Linked DNA regions of Homo sapiens: regions 1 and 2 are each linked to region 3. Evidence: fine-mapped expression QTL. A gene starts in region 3. Each other region holds a variant in brackets. All regions are shown on one strand. Distances are from middle to middle.

Region 1 (6,352 bases), 44 kb after region 3:
AGACAGAGACAGAGGAGAGACAGAGAGAGACAGACAGAGACAGAGAGGGAGAGAGACAGAGAACATAATTGGAAAAGTAAGAAAGATCTCTCCCATCACACTGTCTGTACTAACATCCCAAACTCAGCCCCCATCCCAGAAAAAGACAGAGAATAAGGAAAGGGAAGGATACATCTAGAAAGGGAAGGACGCATCTAGAAAGGGAAGGATACATCTAGAAATAGAGTGTCAGGTCAGAAGAGCTTAGTGAAGGACCCTTATGAGCTAAATTAGGGTTCCATGAGCCAACCTTCACCATAGGTCCCTCTTGACTCCACACCCTCAGCCAAGCCACCTGTTAGATTCTCCTGGGGCCCCTGATTTCACAGGCCCCAAGGCCCTGCCTGAGGGACAGAACAGCCCAGGGTGGGGAATGAGGCAATCGAAACCAGGGAACTCCTTGAGCTGCTAGTGTAGGCGGAGGGCAGGAGGGAGAACACATCTCCTCACACACTTCTTACGTCTACCTTTTACCTTGTAGAAAAATGTCAAAAGTCTTATTTATTGTAGCCAGGAATGCAAGGCAGGTTTCAAATTTTGGAAAGGAAAGAGCAACCTCATGTTCATTTAAAATCATAATTTAAGTCATAATTCTCCCCCCTCCCCGCTTCTACTCCCCAACTTTGGGCTAGCTGAAGCTGGTTTTAGGGCATTCCGTTCCAAGTTTGCATTCACAGATTTGCAACTTGAGTGAGCTGAGCTGGGTAAAAGAATAGCCCAGCTTCGGATGAGGACACCTGTGGGTGCTGCGTTGTCCTCATTCCTCAAGGGGAAGAGAGTGCAACAAGGATGCTTGCAGCTGCTCAGATGCTGGCTCAGGCACAAAGCATCTTCCAGCCCTGACAATGGTGCCATTTTTCTTCCAAGACCAATTGCTAAGTCCTGCAGGATTTCAGGCTTCATCAGAGATATTAAGAGTGAGCAAAAACCTTCCTGACACCAGTTCCCAGGTGTAGGGAAAACACTCAAACTTCCTCTGGGAGGTTTCCTGGCTCCTCTGATGTGGTTGCAAGAAACAAACCAATAGTAGTTAGCCAATGTGATAGCAGAAATCCACGGCAGGCAGAATAATGGCCCCAAAGATGTCCACATCCTAATCTCTAGAACCTGTGAATATATTAGGTTACATGCCAAAGGGCTATCAAAGTTGCAGATGGAATTAAGACAGCTAATCAGCTGACTGTCTTGGGCAGGTGGGCCCAATGTGGTTGCAAGGGTCTTTATAAGTGGAAAAGGGAGGCAGAAGAGAGGGAGCCAGCGAAATGCAGCATGAAGAGGACTCAGCCTGACTTTGCTGGCTCTGAAGGTGGAGGAAGGGGCCACAGCCAAGGAATGCAGGTGGCCTCTAGAAGCTGGAAAAGGCGAGGAAACGGATCATCACCTGGAAGGAAGATAGCACTGCCAACACCGTGATTCTAGCCTAGCCGTGATGGCAGGAAGATTAAATCATAAACCAGTGAAATTTGGGGGGTGAGATAGGCTCAGAGTGTAAGAGGTAAAGGACAGGAATGACTATCACTTTTTATGTAGTTTTGACTTTGTTTTTTCTTTTGAGACAAGTTCTTGCTCTGTCTCCCAGGCTGGAGTGCAGTGGTACACTCACAGCTCACTGCAGCCTCAGTCTCCTGGGCTCAAGCAATCCATTCGTCACACCTCAGCCTCCTGAGTAGCTGGGACTACAGGTATGCACCACCATGCCAGGCTAATTTTTGTATTTTTTGTAGAGATGGGGTTGTGCCATGTTGCCAGGGCTGGTCTCAAACCCCTGAGCTCAAGCAATCTTCCTGCCATGGCCTCCTGAAATGCTGAGATTACAGGCGTGAGCCACTGTGCCTGGCCAGTTTTGACTTTTGAATTATGTGTTTTACATATTCAAAAATAAAATTAAATCAAAGAGTTTTTTAGAAGCACTCTAAACTTGGATAAACACAACACAATGATATACTATCTACCAAACTGGTTACATAAGTACATAGAAAAAAAGAATTAAGTAACTTAAAAGCTGAGCTCCAAGCATACACATTTAGTTGGACTTATTCTAAGGGTAAAAAGACCTGCAAAGAAATCTTGATCTTAGGAGTTTTGTTGTCAGTACTGGTATCGATACTGTGATTCTGGAATATTTTGAGTTATGTCCTAGAATAAAGCAATGAGTAAGGAAGAAGAGAGATACAAATATGGTGTGGAGGATATTGAGGAAGAACTCGGCAATGTATTTGTGTTGAATTGTCTTTGAATTGAAGATATCAGTATAAATCCATGATTCCAAAGATACATTCCTTAGTTCTCTCCACTGAAAGGGAGACACACTGAGGCCCTCATAGCAATGAGCATATGTAGGCCCCAGATCTTGGTTTCTTTCACCCGGATCTAAGTATCACTCTCTATCAAAAGCAACCAGGATTCCTTGGTAAATAGCTAATTTGGGTGTTGAGCAGGAAAAATATAAGATGAGCCTGGAAGTACTCAAAGACCATAGTGACCGCTAAAATGTGGCCCAGCTAGGAACCAAACCTAGGTCTTCAAATGTCAAACCCAGCAATTATTTCTACTTCACTGCCCTGTATTTCCCACCATGAAATCTGCTCCCTACTTTACACAATCTATATTTTGGTATCACTTTTAAATATTAGAATTTTGTTACAGCCAT[C/T]GAAGTGGTATCTTTCTCATTTTATTTTCTCTCCTTTAATAGAAATAAAGCTTTTGAAAAGCCAATCACCAGCCTACCCGAGCATCCAGGATTAGGGTCTGTACTTCTTTTATGTTCTTGAGCAGCGTTCCTCATCCTTTTTGGCACCAGAGACCAGTTTCATGGAAGATAATTTTTCCACGGACAGGGATTAGGGGGAGTATAGGGGTGGGGAAGGGTGGTTTTGGGATGAAACTGTTCCACTTCAGATCATCAGGTACAGATTCTCATAAGGAGCATGCAACCTAAATCCCTCATATGTACAGTTCACAATAGGGTTCATGCTCCTTCGAGAACTAATGCCAGGCTGATCTGACAGGAGGCATGGCTCAGGCAGTAATGCTCACTCACTCACCTGCCACTCACCTCTTGCTGTGCAGCCCGGTTCCTAACAGGCCACAGATTGGTACCAGTCTGTAGCCTGGGGGTTGGGGACCCCTGTTCTTGAGCTCCAAAGCATGCCTGCTAAAACTCTGCTCTGAACATCCAGACCCAGCCTAGGGTAAAGAGACAACTCAGAGAGATGGATCCTTCTGCAGCGTGGCCTCCTGGTTGAGGGTGGTTATTTTTTCTCTGCATTAGTTACCCTCGTTCTTTATCTGGAGAAGGAGCAAATGGAAAAAAGGGGAAAGAGAATGAGACTTTTCTTTTAATAAGTTGAATATTGACCCTGGCCAACAAAGATTTTGGCAGCACAGATTGAAATGCATTCCTGAAACAGACTGGAAGATCTCCTTAATATGCATCAACTGCACCAAATTCAAAAGCTATTACCTCTTACGTTTTCCTTCCATCCACAGGAGGCCCCGCCCTTTGTAAAACAAACAGTTGTCAGGGGGCCGATTCCCCAGTATGGTCACTGTGCAGTGCTTCAACATTTGTTATCACCGTACCATTAATTTCCACACACATCTGCTTGAGGATTTCTTCCTGCCCCGGATGGCATGTTCATCTCCATCTAATTCACATTTTATTGCCCTTGTCTTGCCCCTAGCAAGCGTTATCAAGTGCTGTAAGCATTCCAGAGCTGTGCCAGGTGGCTGGGAGGCCCTCAGCCCCATTCCCTGTGGTTTGAGGCTGCGCTTACAGCTTTAATTTCCAGTCAGCTGTAATTCAGGACCACAAATGGCCAAATTGAAAGGGCTCGCTCACTTCCAAAAAGCATCTCACCAGTAGCTCCTAATTACAGAGCCAAGTGCAAACGACACTGCCTTGCTTGGAAGAGAAGTGAGGGCTCTTTCTCTCTGCTTATTTTGGACACCCTGGGTCACTGAACAACTAAATCTACACTGGAGGATGGCTGCTCCCATTTCCCAGGGGGCCTGGCAGAGGTCCCAAAAGGCAATTTCCCAGGCATGCCTAGTGTGGAGGCCCTGAGAAACGTCGGCTGAAATCAAGCCCTGCCTGGGCTGCTGCAATATTTTCCAGCCAGTGCATCTCAAATGTGAGAAGTGCACAGATCATCTTAAAGGGAAAAAAACTACACAAATTAAGAATACAACTCAAAGGACCCTCTTTAAACAGTGCTGCAAAAAAACAAAAAACAAAAAAACAAAAAACCTAAAATCTCATTCCATGCAAATGCCCTTTAATTGCATTAGCACTGCAAGAGTTCTGTCTTTATAACTGGTATAATTTAGAATGTGCTTGCAGCCCTGGTGCAGTTTGGGAATGAACCTATGCCTTATTTTCAGAATTGTTCTGCAAGGAGTTATCAAAGGATTCACACTCATACCTTCTCATTGCACCAGGCAGACCCGCCTCCTCTCGATTCTAACAATATGTCACCTAAAACCTGCTGCCCAGCATTTCTTTTGACCCTCACAACCATCCCTGAGCCTGGCAGGACTCCTCTAGAGTTTTCAGGAGAGGCGACAGAAGTCACTGGCCCAGGGTCCCAGGAGTAATAGCCACAAGGTTGGAGTTTACGCATTGCTGTTTCGGCAGGGCAAAAAGAATCCAACAGCAGTAATATCTTATGGTTCTGCATAATGGAAGCTGGCTCAGAGCCTGGGATTTCTGACTCCCCACGGAATGTTTTGCTGTTAAGCTGAGATACTTCCAAAACACAGTTAGGTTTGTTAAGTAACACATGGGACATCTTTGTAATGAATTACTAGGTACCCATTAACATTGGGTTTTAAAAGGATGTGGGAAATAAGTTTCTTTATATTTTTAGAAAAAAACAAAACTAGGATTATAGAATTTTTACTTCTTTAATTTTTTTATTCACATACCTTCTATCACATGGAAGTAGAAGGTAGATTGAGAGAAATCTAGCTTCACCCTTGCTCTCTCCACCTTCTCCTTCCTTTTAAAGATAAGGATGCTATTCATTATATAATCAATCCTTCTGTTTTATTTATATATATATATATATTCATATCCCCTCTTTCTTAGACAAATGGCAGCGTATTATATTTACTTTTCTATATTTTCTTTTTTCTTTTTTTGAGATAGAGTCTCATTCATTCTTTTTTGCCCAGGATAGAGGGGTGTAGTGGTGCAATCTCAGCTCACTGTACCTTCTGCCCCCAGGCTTAAGCTATTTTCCTGCCTCAGCCTCTGGAGTAGCTGGAATTACAGGCATGTGTCACTACGCTTGTCTAATTTTTGTATTTTTAGTAGAGACAGGGTTTTGCCATGTTGGCCAGGCTGGTCTTGAATGCCTGACCTCAAGGGATCCACCTGCCTCGGCCTCCCAAAATGCTGGGATTACAGGCATGAGCCACTGCACCCGGCCTGTATTTACTTTTCTCTACTTGCTTCTTTCAATTGACAGTATATCCTGGAGAACCCAGCATAGTAGGATCTAGAGATCTTCCTACTTTGTTTTGAAAGCTGCACAGAACTCCACCAGTCTCCGATTGGTGGACATTTGGGGCCATCACAAATAATGTTGCTGTGAATACTCCTTGGCATATGTCTTTTGGGGTGTCTTGCCAATTTTTTTTTTTTTTTTTTTTTTGAGACAGAGTCTTGCTTTGTCACCCGGGCTGGAGTGCAGTGGCATGATCTCGGCTCACTGCAAGCTCCGCCTCCCGGATTCACGCCATTCTTCTGCCTCAGCCTCCTGAGTAGCTGGGACTACAGGCGCCCGCCACCATGCCCAGCTAATTTTTTGTATTTTTAGTAGAGACAGGGTTTCACCATGTTAGCCAGGATGGCCTCGATCTCCTGACCTCATGATCCGTCCACCTCAGTCTCCCAAAGTGCTGGGATTACAGGCGTGAGCCACTGTGTCCAGCGTCTTGTCAATATTTAAATAGGTTCCTGGAAAGAACATTGCAAAAACAAAAGGGGAATGCATAGAGAATTTTATTAGCCACTGTCAAAACCTCATTTCACTTTCACAAACTCCTGTTTCTCCAAGCCCACCCTCACTGTGTACTACTCAACTTTGTGATTTGATTAATCTGATAGTAAGACTTGGTAACTCAGGATAGTTTTTATTTGCATTTCTCCTCTCTGGCCCCCCACTTTTCTATAGGATTGTTGGTCTTCTCTATTTTCAGAAGTTTTTTCTTTATTAGAGCTATTGATCCTTTCAGGTGTGAGTTGCTGATATTTACTGCCAGTTTGCCATTTGTCTTTTTTCTTTGCTTGAGGTGTTTCTTGTCATAC
Region 2 (6,352 bases), 280 kb after region 3:
ATAAGTAATATACAGTATAATAATTGTATTAATATAGTACAACTATAGATATGTTAAATATCAAAAATATATATTGCTTGTATTACTTGTTCAAGAGGAGATGGAGATAACAGTAGTTTCAGAATCCCTATTAATGAGAAAAGTTCATTTGGATAGAGTATGACTATAAATATACAAACCAGAGGAAAAAGGAAACCTAAGCATGGAAAAAAGACTGAAACATCATCATCTAAATGGCGTTGATAGAAATGGAGAAAAGAATTTCCCTCTCCTTTTAACCTACTTTTAAGCAATGGCTTTAACTCCATGAAAATGCATTTTATGGGTGTAGAAGTTTCAAGGGCACAAAAATCCTTTAAGCAAAAGACAGCACTAGTACCTAGGTTTTCTAACTTTTGTCTCCAATTCACATAGCTGATGAAAAAACTTATCTAGAATTGGCCTCCTTCCTCCCCAACTCTCACTTCTAATCCCCTACACTTTACGGAAGTGAAAGGAAAGTCAAATTGAGAAGCTTTTTCAAAGCTAGCACCCTCACTTTTGCATCCAAAATGGATCCAAGCAGATCCAACCTTGGAAGGAGACACATCCCAACTCTGATTTGTCCTTGGCTGGTGGCACGTGGAGCCCAGGAGGGCAGGAAGCCCAGGTCTACTCACTTCTGCCAATGGGCCAGGGATCTACAAGTCGGGGGCGGTGGGGGGCGGTATACGCATGTGTTTCTAACAGAATGAGATCATCTTATAACATGGATGTAGCCCAAAATTAAAGCAAAACAAGTTATGGCCGTAATTTTCCCATCTACCCATTCCCTCACTGTCATCAAGAAAAGATGGGCCTTGTTTCCAGCAAGAAGGAACCTGGCTAGTGGAGATGCTCCTATGGGGAAGGTGCAGTGGTCACCAGTGCACCCTGACACCCCATGGGGTGGAGTCTCCACCGCAGGGAGAGACTGAGGTAGCTTCACTGCCTGAGTCAGCTCAGGCAGCCCTAACAAAAGACCACAGGCTGGGGGCTTCAACAGCAGGTATTCATTTCTCGCAGCTCTGGAGGCTGCAAGTCCAGGATCCAAGTGCCAGCAGAGTCTGATGGGGGCCACTTTCTGGCTTGCCGATGGCTGCCTTCTCGCTATGTCCTCAGGTGGCAGAGAGAGCTCTCTGCTGTCTCTTTTCAGAAGGGCAGGAATCCCATTATGGGGGCCCTACTCTCAACCCTATTTCCTCAGAGGGCTCATCTCCAAATATAGTCACACTGGGGGTTAGAACTTCACCACCTGAATTTCTGGGGGACATAAAATTTCAGTCCATTGCACTTGCAGGTGGAAGACTCAGCCCAAGCCTACAGATATGACCATGTCAGAGCTGAGACTGGGTCCTGCCCCTTCCACGGCGCTGAGCTGAGCTTCCTTCAGTGTGAGGACAACCAACCCAGAAAAGAGAAATCCAGCTGAGTGCTCAGGGCTGAGGGTCAAAGGTGAGGGCAGTGGGAGTAACAGCAGCTGCCCAGTGCCACCACGCCTGCAGCGGGCAGAGCAAGACAGCAGAGGAGTCGCAGCAAAGGGCAGAAGAGAGGAAAGCAGGGCACATGCTCACCCCATTGAGAGCCACCAAGGCCAGGGAGCACCTGTGCGGCACCACGCCAGCTGAAGTTTCGCAGGTCCCCTGCTTCGAGTCTGGACGGTGCTGTTATCACCATGCTTTAGAAAGGAGGGTGCCTGAGCAGCAGAGGTAAGGGAGTCAGCCTAAGGCTAGGGTGGGAGCAGGGCTGGTAGAAGGCACTGGCCCAAGAGAGGCAGAGGGGAACAAACCCAGGAGGAAGCAATGCGTGGGGGAGGCAGAAGGGAGGAGAGAGTAGAAGCTGGACCTGAAGGAGGCAGAGAAATAAGAGACAGCGATGGAGACAGGAAGCCCTGCCCGGGGACCCAGGAGAGTCAGGCCAGGCCACAGCCACCACAGGGACACAGTGCTTATCAGGCCTCACCCTGAGCCAGCTATGTGGAGTTTAATTTCACTCTCATAACCGCGCGAGGCCGGCATTACCTCCTTTTCCTAAAGGTGTGGATGAGTCTGAGCTAAAGGAACCGACTCAGCATCTCATGCTTAGAGAGGAGCAGACACAAGATCCCAGCAGCGGCCAGGGCCACCTCCAAGGCTGGCAGCCAGGTCTCCAAAGGCAGAGACCTTTCCAGACAGGCCCAAGACAACACTCCCAGCCTTCCCGAACTCCCATCCTGTCCCCAGCCTGCCCACTGGCCGTTCCCAGGGCTAATGGAACAAGTCCGTGCTCAGAGCCAGGCCTGGCACATAGCACATGCTCAGCTAATGATCACTACGGTTATTACATAGATTCAAAATAATCATTTGTTATCAGAGTCATTTGTACACATAATTTTTTCATCCCT[G/C]GTGCTGGGATTGTTTGTAATTTATTGTTCAGTCCACAACGCTAATCATGCTGCCCTAGACACAACAGATGATCAATAAAAGGCTGGCTGGATGAATGGATTAATTAACTGATAGAGAGATGTGCAGTGGAAGGGACGTGAGAATAAGGCAAATAAGGCAGAAGGTAAATGAGAAAATTGACAGATGGGCAAAGAGTGGACACACACACGTTTACGAAAACACAAAAAACAGGCAAAAGGTATTAAGTCCAGGGAACCAGTCGCCCAAGTTAAATAATTTGGGCCTCCCTGGACCATCATCTAGACCAAAAGTATTGCACTGCTACTAGATATCGTATTTATTTTCTTCAGCACATCAAATGAGAACAGCTAAATAAATAGACTCAGCACTTACTAGGAGTCCTGCGCCCAACCTCCTGCTGACCCTCAGAATGACATTTTGGGTGTGATCAGGTTCTCCCAAGCTTCGGCTTATAAAGCACAAAGGCAAACTTAACCTCGGCAGGGCTGCCCCAGACTCCCTGGCTGGGCATACCTGCAAACACCTGAGCGGATGTTGAGGTGGCTCAGAGCCAATCCTGTGGCTTCCACTCTATTGGTGCTATTGGAGATTGGGCCTTTCCCTTTACTGTTCACAGCGGGAAACCTGTCAGTGGGACCAGGTTACAAGGAGGACTGGGCAGGCTGCATTAGATTTTGTATTGGCGGTCTTTTGGTCGTGTCACTTTGGACTCTATCTTTCTGAATAGCAGGAATTACACTCACATGTCTCCCTGTAGGACAACACAACAATTTTTTCCTGTGTCCACAGACATCTCAGGAAGCTTCCCACTAGCCTCCTTGGCCAGGACGGGGGAACCGTCCTCTGGTTCTTTTTACACTTGGACACACACAGCATGGCCACCTCGGCTCCCAGTGACACCGTAAAGAACCAACTGCCGCTCACGCCTGTAATCCCAACACTTTGGGAGGCCGAGATGGGCGGATCATGAGGTCAGGAGATGGAGACCATCCTGGCTAACACAGTGAAATCCTGTCTCTACTAAAAATACAAAAAATTAGCCAGGTGTGGTGGCCGGCGCCTGTAGTCCCATGTGCTCAGGAGGCTGAGGCAGGAGAATGGCGTGAACCCAGGAGGTGGAGCTTGCAGTGAGCTGAGATCGCGCCACTGCACTCCAGCCTGGGCGACAGAGCGAGACTCCGTCTCAAAACAAACAAAAACAAAAACAAAACAAAAACGAAAAAACACACAAAAAAACACATAAAAAACAACTACCTGCTTCAGAAAGCATTTCAAACTGGGAGGCTGCCTAAGTGCATGCACGTGTTCCTAACTTTACTCGTGTATCCTATTCTGTCAGTATCTGAGGACACACTCTTTGTGCATATTCTAAGAATGTTGAAATGGGAAGTGTGGGAAACACGGGCCTGGAACAGTGGCTGCTGAGGAACGGATGGACCTCAACAGACACACTGCTCCTCCAGGGGCAAGTTTGATGGTGTTATAGTTTTCACTAGACTAAATGAGAATCTTTTATGGCAAGCATTTGTAACTGCCTGCCTAACCACAGACATGCTCAATTTAAATGTGATTATTATAGAAATGATAAAAATGCATTTATGCTCACCTACATTGTAAAGACCTGAATACATCTCTACATTGTACCCTCCACAAGCGAGGCTCCACATAGTGGAAACACAAATGTATCTTGAATTTAACATGCCCCTTCACCTCAATATAACCAGCATCAATACTTACTAGCCTGAAAGGCTGTTTTAAACAGCTTGACATGTAAGCAAATTAAACTCTCCCCTCCCGATTCACCCCAAGCCCATATGACCACCACAAGGAGTCCGATCAGCAGGTGGGAAAACTGCTCCCCAGAAATGCCACTGGGGTGAGAAAAGGGATGGCAACTTCCTATTAGAAATAACAGCCGGGCGTGGTGTCTCATGCCTGTAGTCCCAGCATTTTGGGAGGCTGAGGCGGGCGGATTACTTGAGCCCAAGAGGTAGAGGCTGCAGTGAACAGAGATGACGCCACTGCACGCCAGCCTGGGTGACAGAGGGAGAGCCTCTCTCAAAAAAGAAAAGCTCCCAGTGACGCTTTCCTGAATGAAAATGAATTTCATCACTGCCAATGCCACGCATGGTGTTGAGGCCAACCAGGTGCCACAGAAGGGACCTGCCGTCCAGCTGAAGCAGGTCCTGCTGCTTACTCAGTGACCTGCAAAGGCAATGGCACTCTGTCTTCTGCAGAGAAAGGGTGTTTCATTTTCTCGTGCAAATTCCAAATATATCCACATTTCAGATTGCTACAAGGCAGTACTATAAAGGGAGAAGCGAAACAACTCCCACTTTCTGGGAAGAAATGCCCTTGTTTCCAGCTGCAAAACCCTCTCTGTGGGGAAGCACACTGAAGTCGCTCAGGAACAGGCCACCCCTCTTGGAAAGAGTGGAGGTCATCATTTTTCACCTATTAGCGAAAAAAAAACATAATCTGAATACATTTATGTAGGGCTATTACCCAGAATATTTACAGGGTTTCTTCGTGCTAAGGTATTTCATGATGCTCAGAGGAACAAGGTGGAAAAAACACACCATTATTCTCCGCGAACGGCTGCCTTCCTAGTAACTGCACCCACGGTGGCAAATACTGCACATTAACCTGTGCCTTGGTGGTGTACGAAGCTTCCCACAAGCAGGTGAAGATGAAGAGCTAAGTCTGGCTCAGACAGGCAACGCTGCATCGAGCTGTTTTTACTCTAAATAAAAACCATGTTCCACGCGGGCCTTCACGGTGCTACCCCAGAACACGGGCACAATTTAATGCCTCACTCCGAGGAAGGAAGCTCAGGGAAGTCTCCTCTAGTGACTCTTAGAGGCTCCCCAAAGGAGGAGGGCGATGGGGGCCCACCCAAGCTCTAGCGAGGCTACAAACAGCACGCAGAACATTCCACTGCCATTACTTTCCATCTTCAAAAGATTACATATCATCTTAAAGAAAATTCAAGGTTAAATTGGCTTCCTCAGCTGCTGCGGCAGAAAGCAAAGCAGTGCTGCAGAGAAAGTTAAACCACCTCCCAGGGCTCTGGCCTTCTGCAACTCTTATTCTAAGGCAGCTTCCCCATCTATCTTGTTCCACGGTTATATCCCAGGTACCCAAAAAGGCTCTGGCCTTAAGGCTTACCTGTTGCAAATGATAGTCGACCAACTCAGCTGCAAATGGGGCTTGTTATGACACCGGAAATAAAGGTGAGGCTGCCACCCTCTTCGCCAAGCCGGTGAGCACAAGTGTCTGGAGTAACTGCCCCCTACGCCTCTCCAGTTGGGAGCGTTGGGGACAGTAAGTGAGTACTAGTCACTGGAAGCCAGCTCTGAGAGGCAGGTGCTGTGGCTGCCAGAGCTGAGCACAAGCCTAACAGCCTTTGCAACCTCCTCTTCTCCCCGACATCCACTTCGCCTCTACAGGCAGCTGCAGCCCATTTTGCCAAATGATTTCAACGGGCCGGATCCCCCACTCTCAGAAACGATCAGGTTCTATCATTTGACGTTGCATGAGGAGAGCTAAATTAGCCATGAAAACAAAACTGCTCTAACAAAATAAAAAGTACTAAAACCACATACTACCTATGCATGGAGTTCAAGAGTGAGAGGATGAAAACATAAGACACTTCACATAGCCAGCATTCCTCAAGTGAGATTTTGTGTAGAATTTAAAGTAACTTTAATACTTAAGAAAAGAGCGTTCATTATATAGACTGTTTCTTCTCAAGTCCTCAAATGGCCATCAACCCAACTCTGACACCTGCTGTGGAGAGAGTGGAACTAGTTTTAGGGAGATTTTTGGTGGCAGAGAGAGAAGGCAGATCACTAATCCCCATGGGCTGGTGGAAGCCATCAGCAGGATGTGCCTGATAATCCATCCATCTACACCAGAAGGAAGGGCCA
Region 3 (6,352 bases):
ATACAGAATTAAGTATGGCCCCTCCATCTGTTTGCCTTCTGTGAAAGTGCTTAACAATTAATGAATGAAATGTGGTCTGATGTTGAAATAGACACTGCGTGTAGGCATTTGCGATGAGGCTGCAATTTCTTGCAGCAAATGTATGTCACTATTACTCCAGAAATGAGAGCCTCGCCAAACCTTAGCTATAGATGGAAAAGCACAAATAAGTCCCAAATTATGAATTATGAATGTTGCTGCTGTGCCAGGTACTATACACTGAACTCCATATCAGTACATATAACTGGACACTACACTAAATTTGTTTGAGGAAAAGGATAAGGAACAATAGAATAGCTGTGATTTTTTTCTGTATTAAGGACTTTTCACCCAATATCATCAGTTGTTCATTCAAGGCTGCAATAATAAGCACTCCTTAATTTATCCAATCCAGTTGCCTAGCATTAGCTCTCCCAGCAAATTCAGAGCTGCAAAATGCTCCTTTGAAGGTGCTTAATATTAATAAATTGATCAAGAAGGGGTCACGGTCATTTTCTTTATTAAATGTTTGTGAGTGAGGAAGGGCGTGGTGGTTCAAGCCTATAATCCTAGCACTTTGGGAAGCCGAGGCAGAAGCATCACTTGAGCCCAGGAGTTCGAGACCAGCCTGGGCTACATAGTGAGACTCATCTCTACTAAAAATTAAAAGAAAAAAAAAAAATTGCCAGGCGTGGAGTCAACACACCTGTAGTCCCAGCTACTCGGGAGGCTGAGGTGGGAGGATTGCTTGAGTCCGGGAGATCAAGGCTGCAGTGAGCTATGATCACACCACTGCACTCCTGCCTAGGCAACAAAGTGAGACCCTGTCTCAAAAAAAAAAAAAAAGTTTGGAGGTGGCATAAAGAGTCACCTTTGGGATTACATAAAGATTTTCACTGTAGGCTGGGCATGGTGGTTCATGTTTGTAATCCCAGCACTTTGGGAGGCCAAGATTGGTGGATCACCTGAGGTCGGCAGTTTGAGACCAGCCTGACCAACATGGAGAAACCCCATCTCTACTAAAAATACAAAACAAAAACAAAAACCTTAGCTGGGCGTGGTGACACATGCCTGTAATTCCAGCTACTCGGGAGGCTGAGGTAGGAGAATCGCTTGAACCTGGGAGGCGGAGGTTGCAGTGAGCCAAGGTCACGCCATTACACTCCAGCCTGGGCAACAAGAGCAAAACTCCATCTCAAAAAAAAAAAAAATATTTTCACTGTATAAGAACTTTCACATCCCAGCTCGGTGATGATATTTTAACTGAGTTATTGGTATAAACTAAATAAAATACAAGTCCTGAAAATAAATGGCTTGTAGCCAGTGCTCACTTGACTTATTCAGATGTGCTTTTTTCTTCTTCTTCTTTTATTTATTTCTTTTTTTATTTTGCGACGGAGTTTCACTCTTGTTACCCAGGCTGGAGTGCAATGGCACGATCTCAGCTCGCCGCAATCTCCTCCTCCCAGATTCAAGCAATTCTCCTGCCTCAGCCTCCCGAGTAGCTGGGATTACAGGAACGTGCCATCACGTCTGGCATTTTTAGTAGAGACGGGGTTTCTCCATGTTGGTCAGGCTGGTCTCGAACCCCCGACCTCAGGTGATCTGCCCCCCCCCCCCCCCCGGCCTCCCAAAGTGCTGGGATTACAGGTATGAACCACCAAGGCCGGCCCAGATGTGCTTCTTAAAGTGGCAAGAACAAAGAGTGGGAGGCAGGTAAACCATACAACGGGAAATGACTGATTAGCTTCGCCTGTGATTCTAAGGTGGAACAATAATCCTCCCCACCTGAACAGACCTCACCACGCCTCCTGCTGTTTTAGCAACCCCGGGGCTCCATCCCAGGGCTCCTACTGAATGTCCCCTGCCTCTTCTCACCTCGAGTTCAGTTTCCATACCTGTTTCGAATGAGCAAAATACAGAAACTGAGCAACCGAGTGAGCCTCCCTTTTACATTAGGCAGTGCCCAGCTGCTTTGCAGTGGGACAGCGCCAGTCTCAGGCTCTTGGGCAAGTCACTTCATACACCAGTAACTCTGAGGTAACAATCCCTGCCTCCCCTAGTTGTAAGCTTCAAAGGCAGTCATGTGTCCTTGAGGCCACTTGTGAACCATAAATGTTCCTCCTACCCAGTGAAGGTGGTAACTCAGGACAAACCACGGCTTCAGATTATGGTTCCTAAAGTGGGGCCTGTGGAGCCCAGCGATCAGATATCGGAGCACCCATCATTCTGGGTGTGCGTGTGAATGCACGTTTTACAGAGAGCGAGCAGAGAATTTCAGAGTTTTCAACCGATTCGCTGGGAGCTCCACGAAGCAGGAAAGATTAAGCATTACTCCTTTAAGAGCCTTTCCCCTCTCTGGGGTGTGAGGCCTGTGCCCAGCTTTGCAAATTGCAACTTGACCCAGCTGGGAAGCGCAAGTCAACTTGGTTGCTAAGCGACTGCCTGGAAGGGAATGGCGGTGATGGTGCCATTTGCCTCCTCTGGGTTACCAGCTGCGTAAAGCCCCCACAACCCTTTTGCCCCTTACGTTAAGCCACGAAACACTACTTGCCCACCCTTCGGACGCCTGGCCCTCCTTGCCCAAGGTTGCCCGGGAGATCTGAGACCCTCCCCTTGACCCCGGTACTCTCTCCACCCTCACAAGGGCACCACTTCGCACTTGTGCGAGTGCAAAACCCCAGACCCGGTCCTCTACCACCCCTTGGCCCTGCCTAGGCTAAGGATGGGTCCCTACGCCGCCACCCCATCACCGATCGCTCTCCCCGGGCACCATGGAAGCGCCACATGGGGCCAACCCCTGGTGCCGCTATCAATCAGCCTGGCATCGCCCCGCTCACCTGGGCCCCAGCACAGGAGCAGGAGCAGCGCCAGCCCGGTCAGGGCCAGGACAGCAGGCCGCGCGGGGGAGGCAGCCATGGCGGCGGGGCGCGAGCAGGAGGGCGAGGGGCGCACTTCGAGGTGCTGCGAGGGAGAACCGGGCGCGGGAGAGGGGTGCGAGCGGGCAGGCGCGGCCGCGGGTTATCCCTGCGTCGCTGCCGGGGCGGGACCCAGCGGGTGGGCGCCGCGCCAGAGGGCTGAGGGCCAAGCGGCTGCGCCCAGCGCACGGGCGAGTACCACCGAGGTCCTCTCTCCCGCCCCGGCCCCAAGGGGAACGCAGCCCCTGGGCTCCAAGGCCAAGGATGCTTGGCCACGGAGAACCGCCGGCGGCGGGGGCCGCGTGGCCAGCGCTGCCCGCAGCGAAAGCGGTTAGGACAAGCTGGGTTCCGGAGACCCAAGGAAGGGCAGAAGGCATCGGGAGAAGGGACGAGGCCCCCTGGCCACTCAGAGGGAGGACTTGCCGGATCCCAGCGCTGGGGTGTCTCCTTGGCTCCCCCACTTCCTCCGCCCGCCCCAGCCGCGCCACTGTTCCCCTTACTCCTCACCCCTTTCTTCCCTATCTCCCTCCCTCCCTGCTTGGGGGCCTTGCTTCTGCCTGGTTTGTAAAGTGGGCTTTGGAATTTCCTTAGTTCAGAGCTGCTCTTAAGGATGCCTTAGGCGGGGCTGTTTTTGAGATAGTTTGAAAGATTCCACAGTCTGGGTTCAGAGCTGCAGTCCGGGAAATCGTCTCACCCAAACTTCTCCAATAGAAAAGCCTTTGAGAAACCAGGAACCTGGTGCCCTGCAGCTGTGAGCAAAACCACTGCTTCCCTTTGCCCGCTCTGTAATCTGGGCACACTTCAGCGAGCGATGTTAAGGTGAGACCCAAGGGAAACGCAGAACTGCATCCCAGTAACTGGCCTGTTCAACTGTAGAGGACACGTGAAAGGAGGCGTAGTGAACAAAAACTAGAACAACTTTATCCCAACGGACTCTGAGCGGGTCACCTAATTATTCTCTCCAGGCCTGGGCTACAAAAGGATGGAGATGTGAGATTACCTTTCCTGTCTTCCCATCTCAGATCTGCCCTGAACTGAGCTGATTACCTCTTTCCTTCACCAAGGTTCTCACTTATTTTCCCCTCCCTGAGACGGAGTTTCACTCTTGTTGCCCAGGCTGGAGTGCAGTGATGGGATCTCAGTCACTGCAACCTCCAACTCCGGGGTTCAAGCGATTCTCCTGCCTCAGCCTCCTGAGTAGCTGGGATTACAAGGCATGTGCCACGAGGCCCAGCTAATTTTGTATTTTTAGTAGAGAAGGGATTTTACCATGTTGGCCAGGCTGGTCTTGAACTCCTGAACTCAAATGATTCACCCGCATCGGCCTCCCAAAGTGTTAGGATTACAGGTGTGAGCCACCACACCGGCCAGTATTTTTATACCCTCCAGTGGTAAGCACTTACTGTCTCTCCATATAATTAGCTCTCCATGCAATGCAGTTGAATTTCTCCAGCAGGAAGGAGAAAGAAGTCTTCTAACATTGAGCTAGTAAAGACAGATGGTGGCCAACCAAAGAAAAAAGTGCAAAGTGGGTCTGAGTTAGATCATGATACTGCCCAGGGTGTCAGAGAGAATCAGAAGGATAATGTTACACATCTAGCTATCTTGGGGAAGTGCTTCTAAACCCTTGAGGAAACTGTAGAATAGGGGATAGGAGTTTTAAAAGTAACCAGGCATATATTTACTTTTGCCTGAGGACAAGAAATTTATCATTAGAAAGAAAAATCAAAGCACATAAAAAGCCAATATTCTGTTTGGATTGGTTTAGAACATACATTAAACATAATGGCTGTAATCTTATTTATCCTGTGGAGATCATCCCCCTTACCCCAAATTGCTACCAATATCTACTTCTAATATGACATTCAAATTCTCTTCACTTAAGGGGGATCATGGTGGCTCACGCCTGTAATCCCAGCACTTTGGGAGGCTGAGGAGGGCAGATCACTTGAGGTCAGGAGTTTGAGACCAGCCTGACCAACATGGTGAAACTCCCTCTCTACAAAAATGCAAAAATTAGCCAGGCGTGGTGGTGCGTGCCTGTAGTTCCAGCTACTTGGGAGGCTGAGGCAGGAGAATCACTTGAATCCAGGAGGCGGAGGTTGCAGTGAGCCGAGATTGCGCCACTGCACTCCAGCCTGGGTGACAAAGCGAGACACTATCTAAAAAAAAATAAATTATCTTCACTTAATCGGGATATGACCAGAGAGTGTTCTGTAGCAGGGAGCGTCTCACTCTGCCTTCAGAGGGGCCGCTAAACTCATGTGTTCAGCCTGGAGACACTATGTCAGTTCTTATGCTGATATCTAAGTTCCTTTTCATCTGTCTATTTGTTCAACGGTATTTACTTACTGTCTTAGTCCATTTGGGCTGCTAAACAAAATCCCATAAGCTGGGTAGCTTATAAGCAACAGAAATGGATTTTGCACAGTTATGGAGGCTGGAAATTCAAGACTAAGGCCCCAGCAGATTTGGTGTCTGGTCAGGCCCTGCTTCCTGCTTCCTAGATGGCACCTTCTTGCTGTGTCCTCATACGGTAGAAGGGGTGAGGGAGCTCTCTGGGGCTCTTTTATGAGGTCACAAATCCCACTCATGAGGGATCCATCCTCAGTACCTGATCATCTCCCAAAGGCCCCACCTCCTAACACCTCACTTCAGGAATTAGGATTTAATGTATGAATTTAGGGGAGACACAAAAATTCAGTCTGTAGCACTTATAAAATGCTAGCTACATGTGAGACACTATTAAAGGTCCTTTTCTTACTAGTCGCTTAAATTTTTCACCCCTTTAATGTACAAGACCCTCCTTTCTCCCGCTGCTAAGTCTGGTCTGATTTTTCATTCCAGTGTTTCTCAAACTTAGTCTGAAAATCCCAAGGAGCTTGTTAGTGCAGATTTCTGAGTCAAATCCCCTGGAATGACGTAGGTCTTGGGTGGGGCCCAGCTGTCTCCATTTTGTTTTTATTGGCTCCTAGAGGATGCTGTAGTCCTCAGACTGCACTTTGAGTAACTCAGCTCATTCAGCTCTCCACCAAAACGCACCTGCTTCCTAAAGTCTCTACCTGGCCTCACTCAGTTTAATAATGCAGTTTCTCTCCCTTGATATACCATACCAAATGAACCCCAGGACCTTCGTTTCTGCCATGTGACAGTAGCTAAGGACGTGGGCTTTGGGTTCCAGTTCCTTCTGCATTATGCACAAACTGTGTAATTAGATCACCTGTCCTCTCTAGGCCAGAGGTAATATGGGGGCAATATTATCTATCACACTGGGGTAAGAGATCACATGCACAGAGCCTGGTGTACAGTAAGCACTCAACAAATGTTAGAAATTATTTTCAGACCAAACTCCCTCTGGCCTCTGAGCTCCCCACCCAGTGCTCTTACACCTCTCTGATCCTCCCTTCCTTTGGCCA

The links. PIP is the estimated chance that this variant, and not a neighbour inherited with it, causes the effect. A credible set is the group of variants that fine-mapping cannot tell apart.
Region 1: its variant is the best candidate, but not a certain one, in a credible set for the expression of ECRG4 in transverse colon (GTEx, PIP 0.63).
Region 2: its variant is the best candidate, but not a certain one, in a credible set for the expression of ECRG4 in whole blood (INTERVAL, PIP 0.65).

Annotation. Positions count from the first base shown.
Region 1 is chr2:106,018,602-106,024,953 of GRCh38, reverse strand. No RefSeq gene overlaps it. Among named protein-coding and RNA genes, the nearest start is that of ECRG4, 44 kb to the left of the region's middle. The variant C/T (reference allele first, on the strand shown) is at 2,690.
Region 2 is chr2:105,782,253-105,788,604 of GRCh38, reverse strand. All of the region lies in intron 1 of NCK2 (NCK adaptor protein 2), which reads right to left. Among named protein-coding and RNA genes, the nearest start is that of NCK2, 41 kb to the right of the region's middle. RefSeq lists enhancers at 1,716-1,765, 1,348-1,919, 5,205-5,705. The variant G/C (reference allele first, on the strand shown) is at 2,402.
Region 3 is chr2:106,062,350-106,068,701 of GRCh38, reverse strand. It overlaps ECRG4 (ECRG4 augurin precursor), which reads right to left and starts at 3,014. Exons shown (of 4, transcript NM_032411.3): 1 at 2,859-3,014. The coding sequence starts at 2,937.